Linked DNA regions of Homo sapiens: regions 2, 3 and 4 are each linked to region 1. The links come from fine-mapping of genetic effects on gene expression. A gene starts in region 1. Each other region holds a variant in brackets. All regions are shown on one strand. Distances are from middle to middle. Region 1 holds the start of PGPEP1L (pyroglutamyl-peptidase I like). Region 2 has its middle 10 kb from the start of LINC03080. Region 3 overlaps IGF1R (insulin like growth factor 1 receptor). Region 4 overlaps PGPEP1L (pyroglutamyl-peptidase I like).

Evidence for each region.
Region 2: its variant is fine-mapped to the expression of PGPEP1L in coronary artery (GTEx, PIP above 0.99).
Region 3: its variant is fine-mapped to the expression of PGPEP1L in tibial artery (GTEx, PIP above 0.99). The same link has a PIP of 0.9 or more in aorta, coronary artery and visceral fat.
Region 4: its variant is fine-mapped to the expression of PGPEP1L in skeletal muscle (FUSION, PIP 0.95).

The regions. Positions count from the first base shown.
Region 1 is chr15:99,003,804-99,011,378 of GRCh38, reverse strand. PGPEP1L (pyroglutamyl-peptidase I like) reads left to right here and starts at 3,587. Exons shown (of 5, transcript NM_001167902.2): 1 at 3,587-4,020; 2 at 5,723-5,950.
Region 2 is chr15:99,441,892-99,449,466 of GRCh38, reverse strand. No RefSeq gene overlaps it. Among named protein-coding and RNA genes, the nearest start is that of LINC03080, 10 kb to the right of the region's middle. The variant G/A (reference allele first, on the strand shown) is at 3,448.
Region 3 is chr15:98,950,909-98,958,483 of GRCh38, reverse strand. It overlaps IGF1R (insulin like growth factor 1 receptor), which reads right to left. Exons shown (of 21, transcript NM_000875.5): 21 at 1-1,423. The coding sequence ends at 1,042. Among named protein-coding and RNA genes, the nearest start is that of PGPEP1L, 53 kb to the left of the region's middle. The variant T/C (reference allele first, on the strand shown) is at 3,801.
Region 4 is chr15:98,964,845-98,972,419 of GRCh38, reverse strand. PGPEP1L (pyroglutamyl-peptidase I like) reads left to right here. Exons shown (of 5, transcript NM_001167902.2): 3 at 1,262-1,384; 4 at 2,769-2,995; 5 at 3,723-4,191. The coding sequence starts at 2,787. The coding sequence ends at 3,942. Among named protein-coding and RNA genes, the nearest start is that of PGPEP1L, 39 kb to the left of the region's middle. The variant TGA/A (reference allele first, on the strand shown) is at 1,894.

The sequences.
Region 1 (7,575 bases):
GAAAGCTATTAGCTTCAGTATATACCAGTCTCATATCTAACCATTTTTAAGAGGTCCAGTAATTTTTAAAAATCAATGATCATAAATATTATAATCGGATTGTCTATAAATAAGCTGGATCGCTAAGCCTTCCTCAAACCTACTCAGCCACTTAGCACTCACTTCTGACACGAAAGTTACCTTTGGCCCCAGTCAAGAAAAAAAGAAAAATGCCTCTTACATGTGTATACTGGAAAATAGCGGCCCCTCGAAGGCCTGGTGCATGTTTTAGTGTGGCCCCTCTTCCATTCCAAGAGGATATTAAGCTCTCTGCTGCACCCTCCATCTGGCCTCATTTGTCTACACAGGAATTTCCTCAGTGTTAAGAACACAAATGTTCCAGTCATTCCTAAGATATTTGTGAAATTTGAAAGAAAAATCCAGTATTTAAACAATAGGGGTAACAAGCTACTGGATTTTAACAAGTAGAAAACTTCCTTTTGCAACAGTTGTTACTTTGCAGTCAAGGAGCTGTAGTCCCTAAAAAAAAAAGTGATCAAGGCTTAGCAAAAGTCTGAGGGAAAAATATAAGACAGAAGAAAAATAAAGACAAATCCTTCTCCTACAAAATGTAACAGAAATATCACCTTGCGACAGAGTCTCACTCTGTCGCCCAGGCTGGAGTGCAGCATGCGATTTCGGCTCACTGCAAGCTCTGCCTCCCAGGTTCACGCCATTCTCCTCCCTCAGCCTCCCGATTAGCTGCGACTACAGGCACTACTAAAATTAGCCGGGTGTGGTGGTGCACACCTGTAATCCCAGCTACTCAGGAGGCTGAGGCACGAGAATTGCTTGAACCGGGAGGCGGAGGTTGCAGTGAACCGAGATTGCACCACTGCACTCCAGCTTGGGCCACAGAGTGAGACCCTGTCTCAAAAAAAAAAAAAAAAAAGTCTACTACATTTATTCATTTATTTTATGGCCCTTTTCAGAAATCGTGTGCTGGCTGGCCCCTGCTGGGGTACAAAGCTGCAGAGGCAGAGGTATAGAGGAGGGTGAGTTCTGAATCTGCCTTGGTAGAGTGACATTATTGGAGGATCCCTTAGTGCTTTGACAAGAAGCAATTTGGCTATGGGTTGTGTTTTATAGTAGAGCTAAGTCGCTTATCTGGAAACAGTGATGTTTGACATGGAGAAAGACTTATGTTATCATTATTTTGGAAATCACAAGTGCTTCTTGCTGATTGATTTATTTTCTCCCCACCTCCCAAAGGAATTTGACCAGTTTGATTAAATTTCATTTATGTCAAGTGTACAAAATGTGTTGTAAGAGCTGTTTGTGTCAGAGACAGTAAACAAACCCCTTTAATCTTTTTTCTTGCGAGAGCAGGAAGTCACCACTTGCCAATGAGAAATTTAAAACAAATCCCACAAAGTTTTGAGTTTAGTTCAGCACGTGAAATAGTTGAGGTCTTGGGATCTTGTAATCTTGGCAACTCCCATTTGCTGTCCCTGGTGAGAACACTTGTGTACCGTTGCTTACTTTCCGGTTCACTAAGAGGGTCGCACCTTGCCCTCTTAATCCTAGAGTCAAATCTGATTACAAACATTTTCCTCTCGGGAATCCCGCTTGTAAGGAAGATCACTGTGCTCTCTGTTAAATAAAACAGCTCCATTTAGTTGCCTTATTCGTTCTCAGGCTTACTGTATTTCATCAGCCTAAAGACTGTGTTTGACATCAATTATTAGAGACCATTTGTTTTTACAATGGAAAAAGAAATAAAAGTGCAGATGTTGAACCTCAAAATCCATACTTCTCAGAGCTATTTTCATTCCAGAAAGTAGGAATGTGCTGGGGGGTTCTTGTGTGGGGAGAGGGGAGGTGAATGAATACAAAAATAGACATATCACTGTGACTAAGTAAAATATTTTGTGTTGTTTTTTCTATTAATTTCAAAATTAGAGAAAACTTTAGAACAGAAAAAAATAAGTGAATTATGGGAAAGTGAAAACTGCAGGACACATTCCAGTTTAGTTAAAATAATAGCTCCTGTCAAATCAAAAAAAAAATGATGAAAATTTCAGCTTTGTTATCAGAAAAGTAGTATGGTTAAAGATGGGCAGTCTTTGCACTTAAGGAGTCTCCTTAAACACAAGTTCCCATTCCCAGACCTCATAGGTGAATGTTGATAGCAGAGTTGGACCCTAGCAGCAACCAACTTTACAAATGTGGGCATTTCTGGACGGGCGCGGTGGCTCACGCCTGTAATCACAGCACTTTGGGAGGCCGAGGCAGGTGGATCACGAGGTCAGGAGTTCAAGACCAGCCTGGCCAAGATGGTCAAACTCTGTCTCTACTAAAAATACAAAAAATAGCCAGGGCTGGTGGCAGGTGCCTGTAATCCCAGCTACTCCGGAGGCTGAGGGAGAGAACTGCTTGAACCTGGGAGGCGGAGGCTGCAGTGAGCCGAGATCGCGCCACTGCACTCCAGCCTGGGCAACAGAGCGAGACTACATCTGAAAAAAAAAAAAAAAGAAGAAGTGGGCATTTCTTAATGGTCCAATCTCTTCCTTTAACTGTGCAGAGGAAGCCAAGCCCCCACTGAGAGGTGACAACATGCTGGTAGGCCTCGCAGCCGTCACTCACTCTCGGCTCCTCTGCCTGGGCTCCCACTTTAACGGCACTTGAGGAGCCCTTCAGCCCGCCGCTGCACTGTGGGAGCCCCTTCCTGGGCTGGCCAAAGCCAGAGCCGGCTCCCTCAGCTTGCGGGGAGGTGTGGAGGGAGAGACGCGGGCGGGAACCGGGGCTGCACGCCGCGCTTGCGCGCCAGTGCGAGTTCCGGGTGGGCGTGGGCTCGGCGGGCCCCGCACTCCAAGCAGCCAGCCCGCCCCGCCGGCCACGGGCAGTGAGGGGCTTAGCACCTGGGCCAGCAGCTGTTAGTGCTCGACTTCTCGCGGGGCCTTAGCTGCCTCCGTGCGGGGCATGGCTCGGGACCTGCAGCCCGCCATACCTGAGCCTCCTCCCCCGCGTCATGGGCTCCTGCGCGGCCTGAGCCTCCCCCACGAGTGCCGCCCCCTGCTCCACAGGACCCAGTCCCATCGACCACCCAACGGCTGAGGAGTGCAGGCGCACTGCACAGGACTGGCAGGCAGCTCCACCTGCGGCCCTGGTGCGGGATCCACTGGGTGAAGCCAGCTGGGCTTCTGAGTCTGGAAGGGACTTGGAGAACCTTTATGTTTAACTAAGGGATTGTAAATACACCAATGGGCACTCTGTATCTAGCTCAAGGTTTGTAAACACACCAATCAGCACCCTGTGTCTAGCTCAGGGTTTGTGAATGCACCAATCGACGCTCTGTATCTAGCTACTCTGGTGGGGACTTGGAGAACCTTTGTGTCCACACTCTGTATCTAGCTAATCTAGTGGGGACGTGGAGAACTTTTGTGTCCAGCTCCAGGATTGTAAACGCACCCATCAGCACCCTGTCAAAACGGACCAATCAGCTCTCTGTAAAACAGACCAATCGGCTCTCTGTAAAATGGACCAATCAGCAGGATGTGGGTGGGGCCAGATAAGAGAATAAAAGCAGGCTGCCCCAGGTAGCAGTAGCAACTTGCTGGAGTCGCCTTCTGTGCTGTGGAAGTTTTGTTGTTTTGCTTGTTTGCAATAACCGTTGCTGCTGCTTACTGTTTGGGTCCGCACTGCCTTTATGAGCTGTAACGCTCACCGTGAAGGTCTGCAGCTTCGTTCTTAAAGCCAGCCACATCACGGACCCACCGGGAGAAACGAATAACTCCAAACACGCCACCTTAAGAGCCGTAGCACTCATGATGAAGGTCCGTAGCTTCACTCCTGAAGTCAGCGAGATCACGAATCTGCCAGAAGGAAGAAACTCCGAACACATGCGAGCATCAGAAGAAACAAACTTGGGACACGCTGCCTTTAAAAACTGTAACACTCACCGCCAGGGTCCGCGGCTTCGTTCTTGAAGTCAGTGAGACCAAGAATCCGCCGATTCTGGACACACCATGACGGAACTAGGTAAGTGATAGGAGCTAGGAGAGCTGCTCACCAGAGGAGGTAGAGACCAAGTCTACAAGTGCATCCGGGGTATATTGAGAAACCGGGTAACTTCTGTGAAATGAGGCAAAGTACAAAAATCCTCTGCATCCCACTCATGGCAAGGTGGGCCCAGCTTCTCAGGACAGGGAGTGGGAGACTAGTGGGAGCAAATGGCGCTTCCCACCTGTTGGCAGTGAAGAGGCCTGCAGCCCACACCAGGAGCTAATTAAAGGGAATTGTTCCTGGTTCAGAATCCCAGAAAGCCACCAAGGGGGGTCTAATCCGCGGGGGTGATCCCAATTAAAAGGGAGCGCTTTATATCAGGAGGACAATTCAGCAGATGGAGCCACGTGGTCCTGCTGTCACACTGAGCTCTCTAGAGGCCGCAGGGTGCTTGAGAGGCTCTGCCTGCTTCCCTGAAGGGAGCTTCTCCTCCCCAGACCTAGATGGGGACAGAGAATCATGGGTCTTCTTCCTCTTAATATACAGCTTCAGGAAAAAAGTATTTTCAGTTTAAAAAAAAGTTTAAGAATATTTTTAGAGACAGGGTCTCACTCTGTCACCCAGGGTGGAGTGCAGAGGTGCAGTTACGACTGACGGCTCAAGTGATCCTCCCGCTTCAGCCTCCCTGAGAAGCCAGGACTATGGGCATATACCACGTTTTGAAAAAAATAATTGATGCAGTCTTGCCACGTTGCCCAGGTTGATCTTGAACTCCTGGCCTCAGGCTATCCTCCTACCTTGGCCTCTCAAAATGCTGAAATTAAAGGCGTGAGCCAGTGCACCTGGCCAAAAGTTTGTTTTGTTTTTAAATAGAATTCTCCGAAAGATCAAGATATTGGAAAACAGCTTTTTCGATAGAGGAAATAGCCTCAAATGTTAGCCTTTTTCAGTTATTCTGACACATTAAAAAGAGGACTGTCTGCAGAGCCAGGTGGCATGCCACGGCTGTGGCTCACTGTCAGTGGCATGTTTAAGGAGTCCAGCACAGTGTCAAGAAAGCACTTTTCGCAGGTAGAACGCAGGGTGGTGAGCACAGAGCTAGCAAGCTTGCACAGACGCTAGCTAGGTGGCAAGCCTCTGTTCCTCAGGGCTGATGAAGCTGGGGACAGTGCCTGGGGCACAGAAAGAATCCATACAGGATCCGGTGCTGCGATCCTCGTTTCTCAAAACAGGAAACCTGAGCACAGAGGTTAACTTCCCTGAGGACCCACAGCTCCTAGGCAGCGGTGCTTGCAATCAATATTTTAAAGGCAGGCGCCATAAGATTCATCTATGGTTTTCTCTCTTTTTTTTCTGCTCACATCTCACATATTTTGTGGAATTAGTTTTCAGAGCAATCAAATTTTACCAAATCATAATGGCCAAACACAATGAGGGGCTCTGGCAGGGATTACTAAAGAGGAAAAAATAAGATCTAAGTAAACGACTTGTAGGGTAGCCCACAGTTCCTAGGACAGTACCTCTTTGAGCACCATGTGGTGTTCCGTCCCAGACATCCTTCTGTCCCAGGCAAACCGGGACAGCTGGTAGCCAAACCCTTAGCTCACCTTTGAACCATCCTGAACAACAAAGTGACCCAGACTCAAATGTCCAGAAAGTCCCTGCTGGCGCTCCAACCCGCTGTCCTGAGCTGGATCGTTCTGCTTTCAAGGGGCATTGCTTTATCACCCTCCCCTAGATCCTTGGCCTTTCGGGGCCCAGAACGCTACGGACGCCGGGCGGCCAGGAGGGGTTGGGCTCCCGCTCCACCCCGGTCCCCGGCGAGCACGCGGCCAGGCAGAGAAGGTGCCCGGAGCTCAGAGCGCGCAGAGCCCGGCCGCTGGGCCGCTGCCTGAGCCAGGGAGGCGCAGCGCGAGCTCCCACTTCGTCTTCATGGATTCCCAGCCCAGCTGCGTGGTGGTGACTGGTAAGACTACATAATTTTTTTCTCTCCTATTTGTTGCTGCTTTTAGCCTGCCCCTGGAATGCGCACTGGCCTGATCCTGGGTCTTAAATAGTTCCCTGAGGGAAAAAAAGAATGGCAACTGGTGGTGCTAATAATTCCAGATGGAAACGAACTTGCTGCTGTGCCCTATTAATAAACAATCAGGATCACAGGCATTTCTGCTTCTGTGGCTCATTCGCTTCAAGTAACTCTCGAGTGGCGGGCACGAAGGTGCCACTGGTGGCTTAGGCTCAGACCTTGCCTTTCAACCCAGCAGGGAGGAAGCTGAGGCTGGTACCTGTTTTCCCTGAGTGGGGCCCGAGGCACGTGAGGTATCCCTTGGGGGTGCAGGCTCATAGCAAGGAAGAGGGATCTATACGCCCAGAAACCACAGGGCCCTCACAAGGCTTGCAAACCCATCTACAACAGCCACCCGCAAAGGAACACACAGTCCCCACTTCCAGAGTAAGAACTTCCATTTTTCAGGGAGCTGTGAAGCACCCCCCGAGAGCCACTAGCTGGAGACCCTGAGCCCCAGAAGGTCAACTTGGAAGGAATGGTGGCTGCTCACTCCTGCAAACACCAGCACATCCAGAGTCACCCCCACCCACACTTGCCTCACCAAGTCAGCATCCCAGCTGGTCCCTGGGGGCCTGATCTTCACAAAGGTCTTTATTTTTATTAATTTTTTTTTGAGACAGAGTCTTGTTCTGTCGCTAGGCTAGAGTGCAGTGGCGTAAGCTCAGCTCACTGCAGCCTCCGCCTCCTGGGTTCAAGCGATTCTCCTGCCTCAGCCTCCCGAGTAGCTGGGACTACAGGTACGCACCACCACGCCCAGCTAATTTTTGTATTTTTAGTAGAGATGGGGTTTCACCATGTTGGCCAGGATGGTTTCGATCTCTTGACCTTGTGATCTGCCCGCCTAGGCCTCCCAAAGTGCTGGGACTACAGGCATGAGCCACTGCGCCTGGCCCTATTTTTATTTTTATATTTTTAATTTTTCTGAGACAGTCTCCCTCTGTTGTCCAGACTGGAGTGCAGTGGCTCAGTCATAACTCACTGCAGCCTCAAACTCCTGGGCTCAAGTAATCCTCCCACCTCAGCCTCTGGAGTAGCTGGGACAACAGGCACTCACCACCACACCCCCCAATTTATTTTATTTTAGTTTTTAGTAGAAACAGGGTTTTCCTGTATTCCCCAGACTGGTCTCTAACTCCCGGGCTGAAGTGATCCTCCCGCCTTGGCCTCCCAAAATGCAGGGATTACAGGCATGAGCCATCATGTCCAGCCTTCATTTTTAGTTAGACACATTTGGCCGGTTTTAAGTTTTCTGAATTGTGTTGGATGAAGAGGCAGGGTTTCCTGGATGAATGGGAAATTGAAAGTTGTGTCGCTTAATCTTTTCAGACTATAATTCTAACTCCTATCGACCTTCAGAGAAAAAGTTCTTTGGGAAACCTTTTATCTCCCTTGCTCTTATTTGTGTTATTTTGGTTCTGGAGATTGAATGGTTCAAATTACTCTTGAATTCCTAAGGAAACTGTACTCTAATGCATGCAATGCTTGTCATGAATGAAATATGAACATTGAAGCACCATCTTAGAATC
Region 2 (7,575 bases), 440 kb before region 1:
GTGGCCATTATTATTGTTATTATAGGACATGAAGCGGTTTCTGTGAATGATGTTAAATGTATCTGGTTTGATGCTTCTGGTTGCGTGTTATGTTTTAAAAAGCTTTTTCCACTTTGATATATATTTTTTTAAATTCACGTTTTCTTCAAGTTCTTCAAGTCCAAGCCTGAGCTCCAGGACTAGACAATTTGGGTTCAAATCCTGGCTCTCCTGATTCTTGGGTGACTCCATGCCTCACTTTTCTATTCTGTAAAGTGGGGATAAGGAAACCTGCCTCATAGCATCAGGTTGGGTGTGTGCTTCTCTAGGGGAGGCCTCCTCAAATGCTCAACTGAAGAAGGTTAATCACGCCTGTAATCCCAGCACTCTGGGAGGCCGAGGCGGGTGGATCACCTGAAGTCAGGAATTCGAGACCAGCCTGGCTAACAAAGTGAAACCCTATCTCTACTAAAAATACAAAAAAAGAATTAGCTGGGCGTGGTGCTGCACACAGCTACTTGGGAGGCAGAGGCAGAAGAATCACTTGAACCTGAGAGGCGGAGGTTGCAGTGAGCCGAGATCGCACCATTGCCCTCCAGCCTGGGCGACAGAGCAAGACTCTGTCTCAAAAAACAAAAAAACAGGTTAACTTGAAAGATTCCCTGATGCCCCACTGGAACCGGCACCTGGATCAGACGGCCTTTCACAATTATTTCCAGGATCTCCCGGCTCGGAGAACAAGAGGCTTTCCCTGCACCTGGACACATGACTGCCTCCTTCACTGCTGCTTCTCCACCTAGACGGGGGAACTCCCCAGGAAAGGGGTTCAGGTTCTGCCTTGGAGGTTGGCAAACCCTGGAGGAATTGTGGGGTCCCTGGGAGACTGTTATGGGCTGAACTGCGTCCTTTTTCAAAGTTCTTGTTGAAGTCATAACTCCCTGTACTTCCAAATGTCACCATATTTGGAGACAGGTAATTAAATTAAAATGAGGTCATTGGGGGTTACGAATCCAGCCTGACTTGGTGTGCTTAGAAGAAGAGGACATTTGGACACAAAGGAAAGATAATGTGAGGACACAGGAAGAAGGTGGCGGTCTACAGAGCAAAGTGAGGGGCCTCAGAAGAAACCAAGCCTGCCAACATCTCTATCTCAAACTTCCAGCTGCCAGAATCCTAAGAAAACATGCTTCTGTTGTTTAAGCGACCGGGTCTGTGGTGTGTTGTGGTGTGTTGTGGCGTGTTGTTAGGGCAGCCAGAGGAGACTAGCAGAGACACCGTCCATGAGGCCTCCCTGCCTCTGCTTCTCTAGGCCCCAAGCTGGGTGGGGAGTGTGGATTATCTGGGTGTCTTTTACCCCTTATCTGATGCTGCAGACCATGACCCAGGTGCAGACAACTGTTCTCTCCGTTCTCTCTTTCTCCCCTCCCACAGTCACCCCTCTCCCCCCACCGAATAATATGAAAGACAATATGTGGGGCTTTGGGTCTGGACGAAGATCAAAGCCAAAGGACAGGTGCTCAGGCAGAGTGTGAGGAGGCTTCCTTCACTGGGCGAGGATAGAGACATCCACGTGGACCTCCCGAAAGCCCTGGCAGACCCCCAGAGGCCTGCACGCAGCTGCAGCAAAAACAGGTGTGGGGGCCGCAGGAAGCTGGCAGCCTCCATAGGCCCCGCGCTGGGGAGTGCAGCACAGCGGGTGGACGGAGGTTAACGTGGGGGAAGAGTGATGGGGAAAGCGCGTGGCACCTGGCTCTAAGATTGCGGGTCCTCCCTGCAGGCTGGCCCGGAGATTGTGGGCGGGGCCTCCTCGGGGCAGTGGGCGTGTCCAGGCACTGCGCTAACCCCGCCCCCCGCCCCCGTGCCTCCCCTTCCTCTGTCTCTGCAAGCATGCCAGCTTGACCCCAGAGCAATGGGATGTACAGGGAGGGGCAGGAAAATCCATCTCTGGGGGAGATGGATTGCAATTTAGAGGCTTCTCCTGAGCTTCAGGGACGAGGAGCCGCAGGTCAGAGTGGAGGGTAAACCTGCTTGGAGACCTGATGCCTCCCTTCACTGTCCCGCGGGCCCAGAGGAAGGGTTTTCATTTAGGGCCAGGGAGGGCAAGGGCCTCAGAGCCTTCCACAAAAAATGAGGACCCTGCCTCTCTAAGACGCCCGGACCCCTGCATGGTAGGGAATCCCCGGCCCCAATTCCAGGGCTGAGCTGGGCTGGGGGCAGGGTGGTTGGGGTTGCAACTCTCCTCCTGCGATCTGGTCCTGAGGCCCAGACAGGCCCGAGTGCTGTCCCCCACTTGGCTCTGCCCGCTGGCGAGGCTGCGTCTGCTAATGAGCTGCCAGCTGCTGAGTGGCTCTCAGCAGCTGCCCTGTCCCCGCCCAGGTGTGTGCGCCCCAGGCGCGCAGGCAGCGGGGAAGGCCGAGCGCCACTTGTAAAAGGTAATAACCCATTGCCGCAGGATAATCGCCCCTCCAGACAGGCAGACTTGATCTCATTAGCGATCCTGCAGAAAGTCTGGAGAGGACTCCTGCCCCCGCTGGGTAAGGGCGGCACTCAGGACGGAGAAGGTGCACCATCTGCTTCAGGTGCGAATGGGACCAAGCTCCAAGTTTCCTGAGAATATGGAGGCAAAGGAGAGACAGGGCAAAGAGAGAGGAGGAGACTCACACTCCCAGTGCTCCCTGTGTGCGTGTCCCCGCCTGGCTGGTGCCTTGGCTATGCAAACCCCGCGTGAGCAAGCTGGACTGCCCTTCCTCTGTGGACCAGACGAACCCTCCTCTGCTGGGAAGAGCTCTCGTCCAGGCCATCGCTTCACCCTGGCTCTTTCCTCTGAGCTCCTGTAGTGCTGTTGCCTGCACCACTGGGGCTGAAGGAAAGAATCGCCAACACCGCACTGCACTGGGGATATCTCTAAACTTCAGGTTCCATGATTTGCCCTGGGTCATATGTGGCCAGTGTCTGCTGGTTTGCTGGATTCCCCTCTCCTAATCCCTTTCTGCTATTCTAGGGATATTAACCTTTTTCTGGAGCATGGACACTTTTTGAGAACCTGATGGAAGCTATGGACCTCTTTCTAGAAAAATGTACATAAAATATAAAATGTCTGCAATGTCAGGGCGTCTGTGGATTCGCTGAAGTCCATTCAGGGACTCTTCAAGCCAGTGGTTTCTAAACTTCAATGTGCATCAGAATCATCAGGGGCTTGTCAAAAATACAGATGTTCCAGCTTTACCAGCTGGTCTGGGGTGACAGGGAATCTGCATTTTGGCCTGAAGTTGTTTAGATGCTTGTTCTAGACCCGTACTTCAAGAAACACTGCTCCGTGGCCAAGCGCCACGGCTCACACCTGTAATCCTGGCACTTTGGGAGGCCGAGGTGGGGGGATCACCTGAGGTTCAAGACCAGCCTGGCCAACATGGCAAAAACCCATCTCTGGTAAAAAAATACAAAAAAAATAGCCAGGCTTGATGGTGC[G/A]CTCCCGTAATCCCAGCTACTTGGGAAGCTGAGGCAGGAGAATCACTTGAACCCAAGAGGCAGAGGTTGCAGTGAGCCGAGATGGTGCCACCGCACTCCAGCCTGCATGACGGAGCAAGACGCCATCACAAAACAAAACAAAACAACACAAAACAACAAGAGCAACAACCAGAAACACTGCTCCGGCCGTCTGTGGAGCCCAAGTGAAGACCTCGTTCAAAATCATCTCCAGATGTACAGGTCTTGATGTCCCAAAGGAAACTGCAAGCTCCCTTACAGAAGGGACCGAATCTTAAATCTCTGTACCCAGCCCCAGTGCCCCAAGACCTCATCCATAAGTACTCATTGTTTGCCAAAACTCCTTAACGTTCCCCAAAGAGGACTCTGGGGAAAATCACAAACCAATTGATGTGGGCAGACTCTTTCTTCTTGTAACCCCAATGGGGCCAAACAATGTTGCCTTGTTGTGATGTGATGTGATGAGATGAGATTCCATCCCCTACTCTCAATTTTTCCACCATTGGCGGCACTTAGAAGGGTCTTTGCAAAGGCAAAAAGAATTCCCAGGGCTCATGGCTTTCCTGCCCGGCTGCACTAGCTGTGTGTCAGCTACCAGTTCAGTCAGGGGGACGGTGTGTGCTGGCGTTATTATGCCTCGGTGTTTGCTAGTTTGAATCTGGAATTCTAATCTGATTGACTAAGTAACTTTTACTCTAATTAGAATAGTAGGGTTTGTTCTTAATCTGCAACCATTTAATCTTCCGTCTCATTAATTGCACAAAGGTCTTTATGAATATGTAGATTGGGAAGGAAATAAAAGATTATTTGACCTTGAAGAAACACATATAAAATAGGTATACACTCTCAACCTCCTGTTCCCTTTTATTATGCAGATGTGAAAACTGGTAAGGCTCCAAATCAGGCTACTGTCGGTTATCGACAATCTTGCAGCCAATTAGGATGCAGCATTCTGATGAGCCATACAAGTTTAATAATTAGTATAGTATTTACATGTGAGCTGCTTGCTGAGAATTTGCATGTAAATAAAAATGTGCCTATCAAAACCAGTCAGCAGCAGCCCACTGATGAAAAATGTCAAAAAGGTCCAAAGTAAAACAGAAAAATGCTGTGAAGGAAGGGGCCATATGTCTCCAGCCTCAAGTTGAGTCCTCATTTGAAGGGTAAATGGCCTTCTGAGTATACCTTGTGTCTTGCCTTTTAGAGATATGGGTGATTTGTTCTCTGAAAAGTTTGGAACATAATGTCAGACAAGCTGACTGGCTGGTTAAAATTCTGACCCTACCACCCACCAGTTGGGAACCTCTCTGAGTCTCAATTTCCTCATCCGTAAAACGGGGAAAACCGCTGGGCATGGTAGCTCATGCTTGTAATCCCAGCACTTGGGGAGGTCGAGGCAGGTGGGTCACTTGAGGTCAGCAGTTCGAGACCAGCCTGGCCAACATGGTGAAACCGTGTCTCTACTAAAAACACAAAAATTAGCCAGGCCTGGTGGCAGGTGCCTGTAATCCCAGCTACTTGGGAGGCTGAGGCAGGATAATCACTTGAACCTGGGAAGTGGTGGTTGCAGTGAGCCAAGACAGAGCCACTGTACTCCAGCCTGGATGACAGAGTGAGACTCTGTCTCAAAAAAAAAAAACAAAAAAAAACAAAAACGGCAGGGGGAAACCCCACCTTTCTTACAGACCTGTGTGGCTTAAGTTAAATAACATTGAACATGTTATTTCCTGGCACAAAAAGACTGCCCACAAAATGTGCATTTATTTATGTGCCTATTTCCTTTCTTCCTTCTGACTATATACATGGAAGACTAGAAAGTATTTTCTCTGCAGCTGAATTGACCCATAGGGAGAAACTTGTTCTTGTCTCCAAGGAGAATGCTTGGAGGGAATAATGGCTCTCTATTTAGCAAACCACTGGCTTTTCTTGTGCCAAGGAGGGTTTATAAGTCAGAGCGAGGGAGACAGAAGTTCGTGGTTTGCTAGGGTGGCACCTGGCGTGATTGTCAATCACCCTAATTTCACATTCAGACTGCCCAGTGTGAACCATGACCGAAACAGTCACGTGTGTCAGAGCTGAGCTGCCCAGGACCTCCAGCAAGGTCTTGAGAGGCCGCGTGGAGGAGAGGAGGGGTAGGCTGGGCAGCTGTTTGGGAAAGAGCGGGCACGGCTCCTGGCTGGGCGCAGTGGCTCACACCTGCAATCCCAGCACTTTGGGAGACCGAGCCGGGTGGATCACCTGAGGTCAGTAGTTCGAGACCAGCTTGACCAACATGGCAAAACCCCATCTCTATTAAAAATACAAAAAATAAAAATTAGCCAGGCATGGTGGTGGGTGCCTGTAATCCCAGCTACTCAGGAGGCTGAGGCAGGAGAATCATTTGAACCCAGGAGGCGGAGATTGCAGTGAGCTGAGATCGCACCACTGCACTCCAGCCTGGGCAACATAGTGAGACTCCGTTTCAGGAAAAGACAAAACAAAACAAACAAACAGAAAAAAATGGGCACAGCTCCTGAGGAATTGCTATGCTCCTGCCCTGTGCTGGACCACGTCTCTCCTGGCTCCCCAAACAGTACTCTACCCCTTTTATACTAACCTGTTGTGGAATTAGGTCTCTCTGCAGGATATAAGGATTGCTGAGGGCAGCCTCAGGGCAGGTGCATGGAAAGAAGGTGGAGCCACCCACGGGAGCCCCGCACTTCCCTCACTCCAGGCGCTAGTGTTTAGCCAGTACTCCCAGTGATGGCTGCGCTGGTTATGAGGACCCTGCCATCTTTCCAGACTATGGCCCAGTACCCACTGCTGTGCCCCCATGGTTGGCTGACCTAGCCTTTCTCCAGAGCCCCCAGGGGACCCAGCATCTCGAAGGTTAACAGCTTCACCCCACCCTGAAGTGGGCTCCAGGGTCCAGCACCAGCCCATCCATTGTCATGTTTTCTGATTGGGTGACTGCTCTCCAACACCAGTACATGTGGTGATATCACGTCTTTGGTTACCTATGTCTGCACCGAGCTCAAAATTCATCTTTGCCGTAACATTTGCAATGGCAATCCTGTCTTTAAGGAGACTCAGCCTCATCACCCTTCAAGGGGAAACCCCGTATGCTCTTTTCCAGCGTGGTCCCGTGAGTATTTCCGTGAATGCTGCGAAGGGGAGAGTTAGCCACCGAAGCACCCACTCTCGGCTCAATGATTTTGTACCAGGTGCCTGGGGTGTTGGGGCTGGCAGGGAGAGGGCACGGCTTGGGAGGGGAGGGTTTTCCTGGCTAGCGCGGGGCGTGATGTTTGGCTCCTGGCCTTTGACATAGTTGACTAATCCTTTCCACTGCCAGAAGCCTGCAAGGAATGGCATGTGTGGAGAAGATGGGGTGGGGGTGGAGTGTTCTGAAGCAGAAGAAGGCAATCACATGACTATTATTGCTTTTAATCTTTACATGTGGAGCAAATGAGAGCTGAGAAATTTTAAGAGTTAATCAGCAGTTTTCAGATGACATAGCTCACATTCTTTTTTGTATTCAAACGCCAGCCAGAGAACTCTGGCAAAAAGATCAAGTCCATAGATGCTTGAGTGGTGGAAAAAATAGTGACACAGTTTTTCCATTGCAAATCAAAAAGATATGATCTTATGTTAGTACAGGGAAGTGTTTATGAGCAGTGGCATTAAAGGGAGCAAAACAAAAGTCGGTGTATATATACCAATTAAAAGTGTGTACAAACAGCTCTAAGCACGTCAACAAAGCTCAGATGCGATCACAAAGCTTTGCCTCTGGTATAGCATTGGGCTCTCTTTTGAATGCAAAGTTGAGTTTTAAATTGTTCTGGTAAACATTAATCAGCAATCTGGACCAACTGTTCCAGGAGGAGGGTGGCATTCCCAGGGGCTATCCAAGTGTTTCATGGATGTCTGGTGCCAGGTCCTTTCTCTGAGCCCCAGCACAGGTGCTGAGACTACATCCCCCACTGCATGTGGTGACCCACCTAAAGGCAACTGCAGATGGGGTGGGTTTACAATGCTCTCCAGCATAGGAGAGTGAGGGGGAAGCAGGATGCCGAACCGTGCACATTGCACAGCTACTGCCTGTGCCCAAAACACACCCAACCAAAAGGGACG
Region 3 (7,575 bases), 53 kb after region 1:
CAAACCTGCATCAACAGTGGGGCTGAGTCCCTGGAAACCCCTTCCCATCTGTGTCCTTGGGGGCGGGCGGGGGAGCTGGGGCTGGGAGAGAAGCAGGCATGGGGCCCCTTGACTCCAAGCCTGTCCGCCAGGCTGCTTCGGGGCCCATGGCCACCAGATTCTTGGGGGTTGGGCAGGGGGCTGGGGAGGCAGGGCAGGGAAGCCGGTTCAGCTTCTCCCCACCTTCACTGAGAGAAAGACCTATTGTGTCCAGTTCCCCCAAATAATAATCTAGTCAGAAGCAATGAGACCTGTGTGCCTGTGGCCTTGAGCAGCACAGCAGGGGCAGTCGGATGGACGGAGTGTGTCGCCAGCGTGTCTCTCAAATGGAGCAACCAGCTGCCATGCTCACCCATGCCTCCGGACACGAGGAATCAGCGCCGGGCCGATGAGGGAGAAAGTTCAGGATTTTGGCAAAATTAGGCAGCGTTAAAATGGTAACAGCCTTGGATGAACGATGGCCCTTTGTAAATTTCATGTCCCTAGAAAGGTGAAAGATAAAGGTAAAAATTTCCATCTCCACGTGTTTTTTTGTAATGACCCACGGTGTCAGGCGGGTGTGTACAGTGGTTGGATGGGGCCACAGGGACAGCCACTTCCTCAAACTGATAAAAAGGGCTTCCCAGCTGGACTTGTGGCAATTATTTTTCCGTTATGAAGCAGAGAGGAGAGAGAAAGGGAGAACAGGGAAGGACAGGGACAGAGTGAGGAGACTGGTTCTCAAGTGCTCTGTTGCTATTAAGTGTTGTCATTAAGGTTCTTAAAGGCCCATGTCAGTTAAGGGTTTGGGCAGGGAATAAAAAGCTGCTTGCATATTGAAAAAAGGAACATCCCAAATGTGTTTTACTGCAGAGAAGCTGTCTCCCGCGGGCAGCAAGGGCAGTTCTGAAGATCCACTGAGGTACAGGAGGCTTGTGAATGGATTGTTAAAACTCTCTCTCCCCCCCCACCCCGCTGCGCGTGCGCACACGTTACTGTTTGCACAGATTCAGGATCCAAGGATCAGCAGGTCGAAGACTGGGGCAGCGGCAAGGCCCGCTCGTTCTTGCGGCCCCCGTTCATGTGGGCGTAAGGCTGTCTCTCGTCGAAGCTGGCGCGGAGGACCAGCACCCCAGGGCCGGGGCCGTTCTCGGCCTTGTGTCCTGAGTGTCTGTCGGGCAGTGGCAGGGAGGACGAGGAGGCCGAGGGGTCCAGGGGGACGCTCTCCATGTTCTCTGGCTCCAGGTCCAGCTCCTCCGGCTCGGGCAGCTTGTTCTCCTCGCTGTAGTAGAAGGAGACCTCCCGGAAGCCAGGCTCCATCTCCTCTTTGATGCTGCTGATGATCTCCAGGAAGGAAGGCCTCATCTTGGGGTTATACTGCCAGCACATGCGCATCAGTTCAAACCTGCAGCCAAGACACACGGGAGGGGGTCCAAACCGGGAGGGCGCACATGGCCAGGAGGCTTCATGGGCCGCCTGCAGTGGTTTCCCGCATACAAGCGTACGGCGGGAGCACTGAACACAGCCCTGCTGCCCCTCTCCATCCCTGGCTTTCTGCCTGGATGGCCAAGTGGCCTTCAGAGTCTCCTGTTTTACCTCGTACGGTTCCATTCTCTTCCCCCAGAACCCAGAACCACCACGGTACAAAACCCAAACTCTCCTTTCCCAAGAAGGACTAATCCAGGTCCACACTGTCCATCGTGACAGCTGTTATCTATGGTGGCAGTGCTAAGAAACAAAAATAACCAGTTTTCTATCTGAGGCGTCTCATGCAGGCACTGCTGAAACATCCTTTCCAGAATTAGCAGGAAACCCCTGGTTTCTCACCAGGAAGGCTGATGAGTGACCGCAGCTTCCCCAACAGTGCTCTCTCTCCGGTTCCCACCTGTGCTATTTCTAAGCTTCCTCCTGGTGCAGGGCTACCCCTGGCAGACAACCAAAGGAAGAAGGCACTGTGAGGCCAGGCTTGCAACACGAAGAAATGCACACTCCGAGTCTGCTGTCTCCATCTAGCACGTGCTCGCTCCAGCCCTGCACAAGCAAGCCCCAGCCGATGAGCCAGGCTGTTCTGGACCAAACGAGAGGCCCCGTGTAGACCTGAAGCCAGATTCCAACAAGCCAGCAAGGAGAGCCCTGGGCACGAGTCCCCTCCACACGCAAGGGACAGGCAGAACAGGATGACGCTTGTGCTGTGTGTCGGTCGCATCGGCTGGGCTCCGACAGCACCTGGGCTGCAAATACCTGTGAGGCCCTCAGAGTCACATGGAGCAAAGGGAGTCCTGCCGGCTGTGGCCGGGGCTCCCCAAGAAAACAGCCGGCCACACGTGGACAAGGAAAGCCGGCTGCCCTGACCCAGGAAAGGCCCGGGCTTTGACAAGCTTCCAGAATGCAGAGACCCAGCTAAACAGACTTTTGGGGCAAAAAGCAGCTGGCTACCATCCAGGGCTGGCCATAGTTCTGAGGAGTGACCGCCAACAGCCCTCTCTTACATGAGCGTGAAACCAAAGTGCCTTCCTTTCCACGTCTGTTCTCACCAGGAAGTTATCCTCTTTATTTTAAAATTCTGGCTAAAGAGATGCTTTTCCATAAAAGTGGCCACACAGAACTCTCCACATCTAGGAAACTCAAAGCACACCCAGTGGCATCTAGCCTCCTGTCAGGGTGGCTGCTTGACCACAGACTACCTGCCCGTGTCTGGCCTTCAGGGAACATTCCAAGGGGAGGCCCCTGATGTAAGAGAAGCCACTGGGCCTGGAAGCTGGCCTGCCAAGAGAAGGGCTCCTATGGCCACCTGGCAGCTTCCTTCAGGTGGAGAAGGTGCAACCTTGAGGGAGGGTGGGCCTGGGTGTGAGGGAGAGCCATCCAGAATTCACTAGAATTCAGCGTTCTAGAGCCCGGGGGCCTGCGTCTCCACAGGGCCTAACCCGGGGCTGCCCGCCTCTACATCAGCTGCACTGGCATGGGGCCACGCTCCCTCATTTCCATGTGGGCTGCAGCTGCTTTCCAGCTACAACTACCAGCTGAGGACATTAGGACAGAGACTGTGGCCTGCAAGTCTAAAAATGTTTATTTACCACGTCGCCCTTTAAAAGAAGGAAGGGTGCAGGTTCCTGTTCTGGGGAGAAAAGAATTAGACAAAATATGAAGGCCCCCACAGTATGCTTCTTAGATTTGGAGAGTTCCATGTGGCCACTTTTATGGAAAAGTATCTCTGTAGCCAGAATTTTAAAAGTCTACCCCACGGTAGAATGCCATGTGCACGCTAGGTGCCAGGCAGCGAGGCAGTTATGTGTGTGAACTGCTGAAGTCCTCACGAGTTTGTGAAGCAGGTGCTACTGACTATAATATACCCCCATGTTACAGATGAGGGAACAGAAGCACTAAGATACTAAATAATTTGTCCAAGATTACAAAATTCATGAGGGTGGAGCTGGGATGGAGTTCTCTGCGCAACAGAATGACTACACTTTGATCACCAACGATCCTGGAAAAAGGAATTTTTCTCAACCTAAATAAGAGTAACCCTGGGGCCACCAGGAGACCCTCCCTCACCTAACTGTCCAAGGAACAGTCACAGATGTCACAGGGATGTGGTTTGCATTGATAAAAGCTGGCAGCTTGATGACAAATAAGCCTGCCTTTCCAAACTCCCCATCACTTCCTAAGAAAAATGATTGGGGTTAAAAAAATTAAAATAGGCCATAACGACATGAAATGCCTGGGCTGTGAATTCCTCTCCAGCTGACTTACCCCTGGGCAGAAGCGTAACTGGGCCAAGAGCA[T/C]GAGATGTGCTTGGCTCTGTGCCCTGTGGCCAGGGACCGAGGAGGTGCCACAGGAGAGCAGCGAGGCAGTGACATCAGCACAAACAAGCCATGTGACGCCTCTTTTAAACCATTCCAGAGTAACAACCCTTCCAGTGCTGCCCATGAAAGGAAGTCTTTTTTGCTCTGTGGGATTCAAGACCTTGTTTACTATTTCCACACACACAAAAAATCTCCATTAGACTCTAGAAGGATGTGTGAGCTGATAAAACTCATCTTTTAAAAAGCACAATTTTTTTTTTTTTTTTAACCACAGGTCAGTTCTGGGGAGGCTGGCGCCATCCTTCTCGAATGCTCTCCCCTTTGGGGGACACATACCCAGCCCTTCTCCTGGAACAGGGACAAGACTCAAATGGAATTCCTGCCCTGCTGGGAAGCAGCTTCCTGGGGGCCAGCTGTGACCCCCCCCGGAGGCTGGGTGACGGTCAGCAGGGTGAGCACACAGAGGTGCCTCCGTATTCTCACTTCACTCTTGGCCCTGATGTCCTGAACTGGACAGGCTGTGACCTGTGTGCGATGTCAGCAGGCCACGAGGCACCCGCACATTCCCACACGCTGCCGGGAATCAGCACGGCCCCAGCCCGGTGCCGACGCTCACCGGATTCCCAGAGGACCTGCGGGGCTGAATGTGTCTCTCCCTCCTGGCAGCCCTCAACAGTAAGGGTCGTCTTAGGAACCACGCCTCAGCCAGGAGCGGCTGTGGACATGGGGCCTGTGTGCCTCAGTGAGCTTACTGGGGCTAACTGAGCAGGAGCGCCCTTCCTGTCTGTCTGGGTCCCACTCAAGCACTCGATTCCCGCAGAACCAAACCAGGATTCCAGCGATGGGAAAAACTGTACTGGAAAACTACAAAAAACATCAGATTTCACTAAGTTTGTTTCAGACTCATCTATGAGTTGATAATGCTCCAGGCTAAAGTTCAGATTCCCTCCTGAATCCTGTAGACCAAAGACGTCTCTGGCAACAGTCTGGACACGTGGAGCTGTGGAAGTGTTAGCAGCAGAACAAATGGCTTCCTGGCCCAAGTCTTCCACGGCTGCGTTCACACCTCTGCCCTGGCCCTTATCCCGCAGCAGCCGGGACCTTTTACGTCACTACGTTTCCTGAAAGCCAGGGCCACTCCTGGCTCATCTGTGTGACCTCAGGGTCAGCACGCACCCAGAGGAGCTCAACAGTATCTGTGGCATAAATACCGAGATCTGGGCTGAAATAAGGCTGAGGACGGGCTTTGTCATCAATCTAAAGTACAGACCCAGCAGGGAACCACAACCCAAATCTGATGTTGTGATACCTGCTAAGTTAATTCACACTGAGTCATGGCGTTGAGACTCAGACCTCGACACCTTGTGGCTTGGGGACCACGGAGTCCTTCCTCTAAAGCCAGAACACTCGGTGACACTGAGGGGTGAGAATCTGGCTACTTCCTGATGGTGAGCTCCAGTCCACCTGCAGCCACCGAGCTCCTTCAGCCCCTAGTGTCACCAGATGGTGCCTGTTCAGATCTCAGAACCACACAACTCACACACTTTCTCACCTGGGACCCGGCAGAGGTTTCAAGGCAACTCCCAAGGGCTCAGGGACTCTCCTCTCCGGGATAAACGGAGGCCATTCTTTCATGTCTTGTAGCAACAGAACTCCCATGCTAGAACCCTCCTTTCTCAGGTAAGCTCATCAGTAAACTCAGAAGGACAACATGACACTCCCTATGAAACCAAGTTGCCTCCTTTCATTCTACTCTTTTCTTGGAAGGGAGAAAAATTTTCTCAGGAGAAAACATTTTCTTAGAAGGGAGAAAAATTCTCGATGGCAAAGCAGAAATGCCTCCTGAACTAAACATTGAATGTCAGAGTAACCGCTCTGAGTAAATTTCCTTGTCACTCTATGCTGAGAACAGGAAGTGCCCTGCGTTTCCCATGGCAGGGGCTGCGTCCCAGGCAGTTTACATTAATAGTAAAAGCCCAGTCACCTGGAGGTGGACCAAGTAAGAATCCCACAAGTCTCTTGTAGATAAACGTTTACCCGAGTCAAAGAGAAAGCACAGAACAATACCGCTCTCCCTCACCCACCCTAAACCACAGAAGCAGAACTCACACCTGCTTTCATGGGCTGTTTCTAAGCTTGCTAAAATACCACCAGTTCTAGTATTAGCCTAGATTCTAGCACTGTACCTTTATGCAGATTCAGTGGTCATCAGACCTCTTACTCCATGGCTTATATTCAGACTTGAAAGCATGATTTTTCTCATAATGGCTGGCAAGAAAACAGTGGCTGCGCTGCTCAAAGTGTGGAGCAGATGGTCACCTGTGAGGGGCAGTGTGTGTGTGTGTGTGTGTGTGTGTGTTGGTGGGGTACTGGGGGGTAGCCAGGCTCCCGGATCCCCAGTGGTCCTCTCCCCTGTGTCCTGGAGCTCACATCCCCACGTGATTGACTCTCACATGGTGTAACCTGAAGGAGAAGGTGAGAGCCTCAGTGTGACTTCTGAGGTTTGGTCAGAAAGGACGTCGTGCCTTCTGCTCAGGTCCTGGATCTTTTACTCTAGGGCACAGCAGGCAAACTATGTACCTGTGGGTAAAATCTGGCCTGCTGCCTAGTTTTCCAAGGTCTATGAGCTAAGAATGGTTTTCATGTAAATGGCTAAAAGAAATTCAAAATAAGAATATTTTGTGACAACACAGGGATGATGTGGAATTCAAATTCCAGTATTAAAAATAAAGCTGTATTGGAACACAGCCACGCTAGCTTATGTGACGCCCACAGCTGTGTTTGCTCCACAGTGGCAGAGTCCAGTAGTCACAGTCAAGGTCGTATGGGCCCACAGAGCCAAAAACATTTTTTTAGCCGGCCTTTTAGAGAAAGAGTGTGCCGAACTCTGCACTCAGAGAAGCCAGCTACACATCCTGAGACACTTGGGCAGTGCTACGGAGAGGCCCACGTAGAACAGGGCGATTCATGCAGGGCATACTACCTATGCAGCAACACCTTGGAAGTGGGTCTGCCTCCCCCAGGCAAGCCTTCAGATGACTGCAGCCCCGGCGGACAGCTGGGCTGCAACCGCGAGAAGGGCTCCAAGCCAGAGCCAGCCAGCTATGCCGCTCCTGCGTTCCTCGCCTTCAGAAACCTCTGAGAGATAATACATGTTTACTGTTGCTCTTAACTAGTAGGTTTTGGGTAGTTTGTTATACTGCGATAAAAAACTAACACAGAAGGGGAGAAGAAGAATTTCTATACTGGGCAAGAAAAGGTACTAAGTGGTCTTTCGAGTCTCTTCCAAGTTTGGATTGTGGAGTTCTGAAGAGGCCATGCTGGGAAGTTTCCTTGATGAGGGCTCCAGGAAACCCAGTGCCACTGCATCTGTAGGTGCCACCCTCAGAGAAGAGGAGCCTCCCATCACTGGCCCAGGCCCAGGGCACCAGCCGACTTTCTGGTTCTGGCCCTGCCTTGATGGGACAATGGGAGCCCCCACATGTGCTAGCTGTGCAAGGGTGATGCCTTCACTCTGGCTTTCCCTGGTATCCTTCCTGCGCCACCTTTCTGAATTCCACACGAAGTGTCCACTGCCTGGGATACACTTCAGCTGAACCTATGTTCGGAAGCAGCAGCTAATGAGCATGCCGCCCAGCCAACGTACTCCCAGAGCACAGGGGTGTGTATCCAGTCTTCCCCACCCCATGCCCTCCGCTGGCCGGCCATTTACAAGGAGCTTAGGGATTCAGTATTTGTAGCAACACTCAAAGTG
Region 4 (7,575 bases), 39 kb after region 1:
AGTAGAATGTTTTTATTCCATGCTATTTATTTATTTATTTATTTATTTATTTATTTATTTATTTTTGAGACGGAGTTTTGCTCTTGTTGCCCAGGCTGGAGTGCGATGGCACGATCTCAGTTCACTGCAACCTCTGCCTCCCAGGTTCAAGTGATTCTCCTGCCTTAGCATCCCAAGTAGCTGGGATTACAGGCATTTGCCACCACATCTGGCTAATTTTTGTATTTTTAGTAGAGATGGGGTTTTGCCATGTTAGTCATGCTGGTGTCGAACTCCTGACCTCAAGTGATCCACTCACCTCGGCCTCCCAAAGTGCTGGGATTACAGGTGTGAACCACCATGCCTGGCCCATGCTATTTATTTTTAATGTATCTCTAACAGGTTTTTCTTTTGTGATTACCATGAGGCTTATAAAAAAATTGGATAGTTATAATAAGTTATTTTTAAATGATAACAACTGAACATGGATTGCAAAGAAAAGTATCAAAAACAAACTACAATTTAACACCAACCTTCACCCACATTTTTGACTTTTTAGTGTTTCAGTTTTATCTTTTTATGTTGCCTATCTCTCAACCAACTGTAGTAATTATTTTTTATAGTTTTGTCTTTTAGTCTCACACTTAAGACGTACATGATTCACTTAACACCATTACCATATTAGAGTATTCTGAATGTGTTTTCTTACTTGTGCCAGTGAGTTTAATACCTTCAGAAGTTTTCTTGTTACATGTTAGTATCTGTTTCTTTCAAGTTGAACCCTTTAGATTTGTAAGACAGGTCTGGCATTGATTTCCTCAGCTTTTGTTTGGGAAAGTCTTTATTTCTTCTTCATGTTTGAAGGATAGCTTTGCTGGGTACAGTATTGTTGTTGGTGGGTTTTTTTTCCTTCACACTTTGGATTTTTCTTTTCTTTTCTTTTTTTGGAAACAGAGTCTAGCTCTGTCACCCAGGCTGGAGCGCAGTGGTACTATTTCGGCTCACTGCAACCTCCACCTCCCAGGTTCAAGTGATTCTCCTGCCTCAGCCTCCCAAGTAGCTGGGATTACAGACAGGTGCTGCTGTGTGCATTTGCCTCTCTGGTAGGAACTGTGGCTCTCTTCTTGGCCCCTTGCCACTTTGTGAGCTCCTTGAGGGCAAAGTCCAGGCTGCGGAAGACCCCTGGAAGTAGACCCCAAGGATTGGGTTTTCAGGGACTCTTGGTGCCCACCCCCCCCCCCCCCCCATCAACTGAGGCAAGTCCACCTGCCGCTTTCCTCAGGAGCTCTCCAAGCTGGGCCTGGGGAATGAAACAGTGGTGCAGCTGCGGACTCTGGAGCTGCCTGTAGATTACAGGGAGGCTAAGCGGAGGGTCACCGGAATCTGGGAAGATCATCAGCCGCAAGTAAGTGATGGCCAGAGGCAGTGGGGCATGGGACTGGCGATGTGGAGCTGGAGCCTCTGAACCCCCGGGTCCTGGTTCTAGGGTTGATGGTTGAGGGGCACCCCGTCCCCAGGCCCCACCAGTCATGCAAGGTCCCAGCTGATTGTGTAAGGTTCTGGGTCTGTTTGTAAAAGTTTAAGCCAAAATATGGATTAGATCTTAATAGAAAATCTGGAGAGAAAGGAGGAGGAAAAGAAATGGAAGTATTATTCCCAGCCAGGACTCAAAAATAGTTTCCACCTAAGGGAGAGGCCCTTGGGTTGGGCCCCACACATACCCATGAGGGGCAGGTAGGTTTGAAGGTGGACGTGAGGCAAGGACCTCTGTGCCCAGGGAGCGACTGGGAGGGTGGCCAGCCTAGGGGAGGCCCATCTTCATAGCACGAGCCCATTTTATCTGGACATAATTACTGTATAAAAAACAGATACAACCCCACCCCCCCAAAAAAAACCCCAAACAAGGACCAGATG[TGA/A]TGAGGTTAATAAAACATACACTATCAAGCCATTCAGACAATGCCCCAGATGTTTTGATAACATACTTGGGCAGCTATTTTTCAAAAAGGAAAAATAATCAGCTTGAATAAATTCTAAGAAGATTTCACTGGATGGCCACTAACTTCCTTTATTAAAGTTTCATTTAAAAAAAGATGCAGGAGGCGGGCACGGTGGCTCCCACCTATAATCCCAGCACTTTGGGAGGCCGAGGCAGGCGGATCACTTGAGGTCAGGAGTTTGAGACCAGCCTGGCCAACATGGTGAAATCCCATCTCTACTACAAATACAAAAATTAGCTGGGCGTGGTGCACCTGTAGTCCCCGCTACTCGGGAGGCTGAGGCAGGATAATCACTTGAACCCGGGAGGCAGAGGTTGCAGGGAGCTGAGATGGTGCCATTGCACTCCAGCCTGGGTGATACAGCCAGACTCTGTCTCATAAAAATAAATAAATACATAAATAAAATATAAAATAAAAAGATTCAGGATTCCACCAAAACACGAAGACTCTGCTGTGGTAGCCTCACCACTTACTAGCTTGCCTCTCCTCCCTCCAACCCTCCCCCCACAAAAAGAGAATACATTACCCTGTAAGAATAATTTGAAGTAAAAAGCATTTAAATGTAAATGCAGCATGAGTTTTTATTCAGCTAAAAGAATCCAGCTGTTTTTCTTTCCAGCCATATTAATTAGGAGACACTGGTGGGGGATCCTGGGGTTTCCCAGTGGATTTGGGGTTTGAGATGTTTTGCACAGAGCCGGGCTCTCAAAAGGAGTGGCCCCTTCTGCACATTTGGTGAGCAGGGTGGGCCTCGTTTTCCTGGGTTCTCTCTGCTGTTACCCGTTCACACAGCTCGTCGTGCATGTGGGCATGGACACCGCCGCCAAGGCGATCATTCTGGAACAGTCTGGCAAGAACCAAGGCTACCGGGACGCCGACATCCGCAGCTTCTGGCCCGAGGGCGGCGTGTGCCTACCTGGCAGCCCAGACGTGCTGGAGTCAGGGGTCTGCATGAAGGCAGTCTGCAAGCGCGTAGCTGTGGAGGGTGTCGACGTGATCTTTTCCCGAGATGCAGGCAGGTATGCTCTGTGGGTGTCAGGACTCTGAGCAGGTAGGAGAGAAGCAATGGCCGTCAGCGTCCCCCCGACCTCCAAGAAGCCATCCTGTATCGTCCAGCTGGCCACTTGGCCATGCGGTGCCGCCCCCAGATTGCCCCTCTTTGCTGTGTGCAGGCCAGCACAGTTGCTCACACCTTGCCTGAGGTCTCGTTTGTGAGACCTGCCTGTGGAAACACGGTCTTTGGTGTGTTGATCTAGGAGAAGAGATGGGAAGGCAGACTTCAAGAGCCACTAACATTTCGTGAATGTTTTCTGATTTTGATTTTTGGGGTGACCGAAGTTGTGAGTTAACTGTGTTGATGTAGCCCCAGATAAAGATTGATTTACCTTTGTTTCTCCAAACTCCGATCCCCAGTAGGTGGTTTTTCCCCTTTCCCCAGTGAATGAATGAGTAAGTGACTCAACGAAGACATGAATGAGAGGGATTCACTGGGATGCAGGTGCTGTGGAATATCTGACCCCTTTCTGCCTTGGCCACTTGCCGGTCATGAGGCCATGAGGCCAAGAGCCAGCTCTCCCCAGCTCATCCTGGCACCATGTTCTTTCTGAGGTGAAACAACACAAGTCTCCCTTGGGTGGCAGTGCTCCCTCCTCAGGCTTTGTGGGTGTTGCATTGCCACTTCTGCGTATGTTTCACTGAGGTTAGAGGCTGGTCCGAGAATTAATGTGGCATTTCCTGTGGTTGCAGATACGTCTGTGATTATACCTATTACCTGTCTCTGCATCATGGAAAGGGCTGCGCGGCACTCATCCATGTCCCTCCACTATCGCGCGGGCTCCCGGCCAGCCTGCTGGGAAGAGCCTTGAGAGTCATCATCCAGGAAATGCTGGAAGAGGTGGGAAAGCCCAAGCACAGAGCCCAGTTCGAAGAAAACTCAACCATGGTCCTTCCAGCCAAAGGGAACTGACCGGGGGATTGCTCCTCTAGAGAAAATTGAATGTTTCAATCCTGTATGTAGCACTCAACTGTGCATTGAGAAACTTTTTCAAAAATTGCTTGTAAGACAAAGAGGGTGGAAAACTCTGAATTAGCCCAACAAAATCACAAAGGGTTATTTTATTGTCAGGAGAAAGAACACTCTGAAAGGTGGACATTTCACAGGGGATGAACTAGCTTCAGTTATGGTTTTCATGACAATAAAATGAAATCCGAGTCATCTGTTTTCTTCCAAAAATCTACACAGTGGGTCTGTGTGATCCTGCGCAGACTGTGGGGACCACAGACCTGTTTTGGAGATGCTTACAGAAGCACAGAGACAGCCGCTGCTCCAGGGACCCCATTCCTGGCCTTTGAGCTTGTGTGTCCAGGTCCTGGGTAGCCTCGAAGCCACCGAGGCTCTACTGTATGATTTCTCTGTCTCTGTGTTTGCCCCTTTTACTACTCATTTTAATAATTTCAAGCATACAGTTCAGTAGTATACAGTACATTTCCTTGTTGTACAACCATCACCACCATCCATCTCCAGAACTTTCTCCTCATCCCAAACTGAAACTCTGTACCTATTAACTCCCTATTCCTTCTTCCTCCCAGCACTTGGTGCTCACCACTCCACCCTCCATCCCTATGAATCTGACTGTAGGTAGCTCATATGAGGGAGTCATGCGGCGCTGGTCCTTCTACATCTGGCGTATTATTTCAGCCTCATGTCCTCCAGGTTCATCCATGTTGTAGCATGGGACAGGATTTCATTCTGTTGAAGGCTGAATAATATTCCAGTGTATGTATGGACCACATTTCATCCATTCAGCTGTAGATGAACACTTACGTTACTTGCTCCTTTTGGTTCTTGCAAATCATGCTGCTACAAACACTGGCGTGCAAATATGTATCCGAGTCCTTGCTTTCAGGTCAATCTCCAGAGGTGAATTCCTGGATTCAATGCTAATTCTGTGTTTAATTTTTTAAGGAACTGCCATTTTGTTTTGCACAGGGGCTGCACCATTTTACAGTCACACTGGTAGTGTTTGGTTTGAAGGCGCAGGTTAATAGCCGGGCTTAGCTTCTCTCCATGGTGTCTTCCCTTTTTAAAAGCAGAATCTCCTTTCTGTTTCATGTTTTGTTTTGCTTTTATGACACAGCACCGGGTCTTGTGCCAAGCTTCTCCCAGCAAGATTCTACCTGTTCAGTGTTTTCTAGGGGCAGATTTCCTTTGGGAGTCCCATTGGTAACATCGCTTTTTTTTTTTTTTTTGGAGGAAGTGAGTGAAGGTAGGTGAGCTCTGGGAAATTTCTTGTTACGTTGGTGTGCTTACAACTACCATTTTTCACTTGACTACATTTAAAAAATTCATCAGTTAGTGTTTGGATTCATTCACTATTAAGAAAAGCATTTGCAGCTTCCTAACAAAGGAACCAGGCCAGGCGCAGTGGCTCACACCTATAATCCCAGCACTTTGGGAGGCTGAGGTGGGCGGATCACTTGAGGCCAGGAGTTCAAGACCAGCCTGACCAACATGTGAAACCCAGTCTCTACTACAATTACAAAAACATTAGCCGGGTGTGGTGGTGGGTGCCTATAATCCCAGCTACTTGGGAGGCCGAGGCAGGGGAATCGCTTGAACCCAGGAGGCGGAGGTTGCAGTGAGCCGAGATTGCACTATTGCACTCCAGCCTGGTCAATAAGAACAAAACTGTGTCTCAAAAAAAAAAAAAAAAACAAACAAAAACCCACAAGAAAACCAAAGGAAGCAGTCAAGGCCGCCAGCACGCTTTTTGCATTTGGAGTAGCCTTTAGGGGACTCCCTTTGCAAGTACACCTGGATCATTTGCTAGAAAACAGATCAAAGCCCACATATTGGGGGATGGGGGGAGGTGGTGCTGGGCGGTGTGCACAGGTCTGGCTGCATGGTTGCTAATGTGGAGATCTGTCTCTGCTATGGGCAATTCTGTCCCAGGACACTGGCAAGCAAGGGGCCCCCAGGACTGGGCTCCAGTGTTATATTTCAGACTGCCTGGCAGCATGCCATAACATTTTTTAAATTTTTAGATATTATCCAGTTGGGAGGCCCAGAGCTCCCTCTTCAAGAACTTCCCCATCATTTCCCCCCGCTGTGGCCCCTGAAGTTCTCCAGGGAGAACCCCAGAAGTCTCATTCACACCTGGGCTGTGTACTTCACCCAGCATCCCTTGTCAGTATGCACAGAGCCTGCTTAGTTCTGGCAGTGCTGAAGCCAGATTGAGAACCACAGCAGAAAAGGCTGAGAGGCTGAGTCCTGAGTTGGTAGCTGGTGGGGAGGTGGGGGGGCGGGGGAGGGGTCTTGAGCATGCCTGTATGTTTGCTCATCTGTAAGAGTAATTAAAATCCTTCCTTTGCAGGGTGATTGTGAACATCTGGTGAGAGAATGGATGTGAAGGTCTTTTTAGCAACATTAGAACACTACAAAAATCACACATCTGAGTGAGTATGGACTCATACCTGGACTTGGGGGGTAAATGCAGAAATAGCTCTTGAGGGCTTGCAGTCTTAAGAAATGGCCTGGAGGGGAAAGGTTCTAATGCTTCTGAAGACCCAGCACCTTCATCCTTAGATATTGCTGCTCCTTCTGGCTGGGCAGGCCAAGTGCAGACTGCACTGTGGCAACCTGGAAGGGCAGCATCTACCTGACCAGGGAAGGAGGAGGCCCTGTTGGGCTTTCCAGCCTCAGAATTGAGACCTCCTCATCATCAGTCACCTAATGAAGATCCCCTGAGTGCCAGGCACTCGGTGACAACACTGAGCAGTAACCCTGAAGCAATGCCAAGCTTGAGTACCCTTTTTGAGACAGAGTCCTACTCTGTCACCCAGGCTGCAGTACAGTGGCACAATCTTGGCTCACTGCAGCTTCTGCCTCCTGAGTTCAAGAGATTCTCCTGCCTCACCCTCCCAAGTAGCTGGGATTACAGGCACCCGCCACCATGTCCCACTAATTTTTTGTATTTTTAGTAGAGATGGGGTTTTACCATGTTAGCCAGGCTGGTCTTGAACTCCTGACCTCATGTGATCCACCCACCTCAGCCTCCCAAAGTGCTGGGATTACATGCGTGAGCCACCGCACCCCAGCTGAGAGTCCCCTTTCAGAAAGGCCTTTGCTTTTAGGTGCAAACACTTCTGAGGCTCAACAGGTCTGAAGTAACCATGGTCTTCGGTTTACTTCTACCTATACATTGCTGGACAGCTCTTCTTCTACTGGCCCGATTTTGCTATTGGAGCATAATTTCCCATGATAAAGTTGAAGGAAATGACCAGCTTCTCTGCCTGATGTGTCTGAATCCTTAGTCTGATTCTAGAACACACCTTGCCATACATGCCATTTCCCCTGACAAAAATAATGTTTACATTGTAGGGTCCCTAGGGGCAGACAGAGATCACTGAGCAGCAGCTAGAAAGTAACTAGGACTTTGGAGCTCCTCCAGTGACCCACATTCTGCGTGAGGCCCACTGGGTTCTCACCAGCATCCCCCCGAGGTGGGCATGTCAGCTGTGAAAGACCAAAAAGCACATGGGAAATGTGAAGAACTGAAGTCCTCTGCCTTGGGGTCATGCAGATCAGACTTGCCTTGGC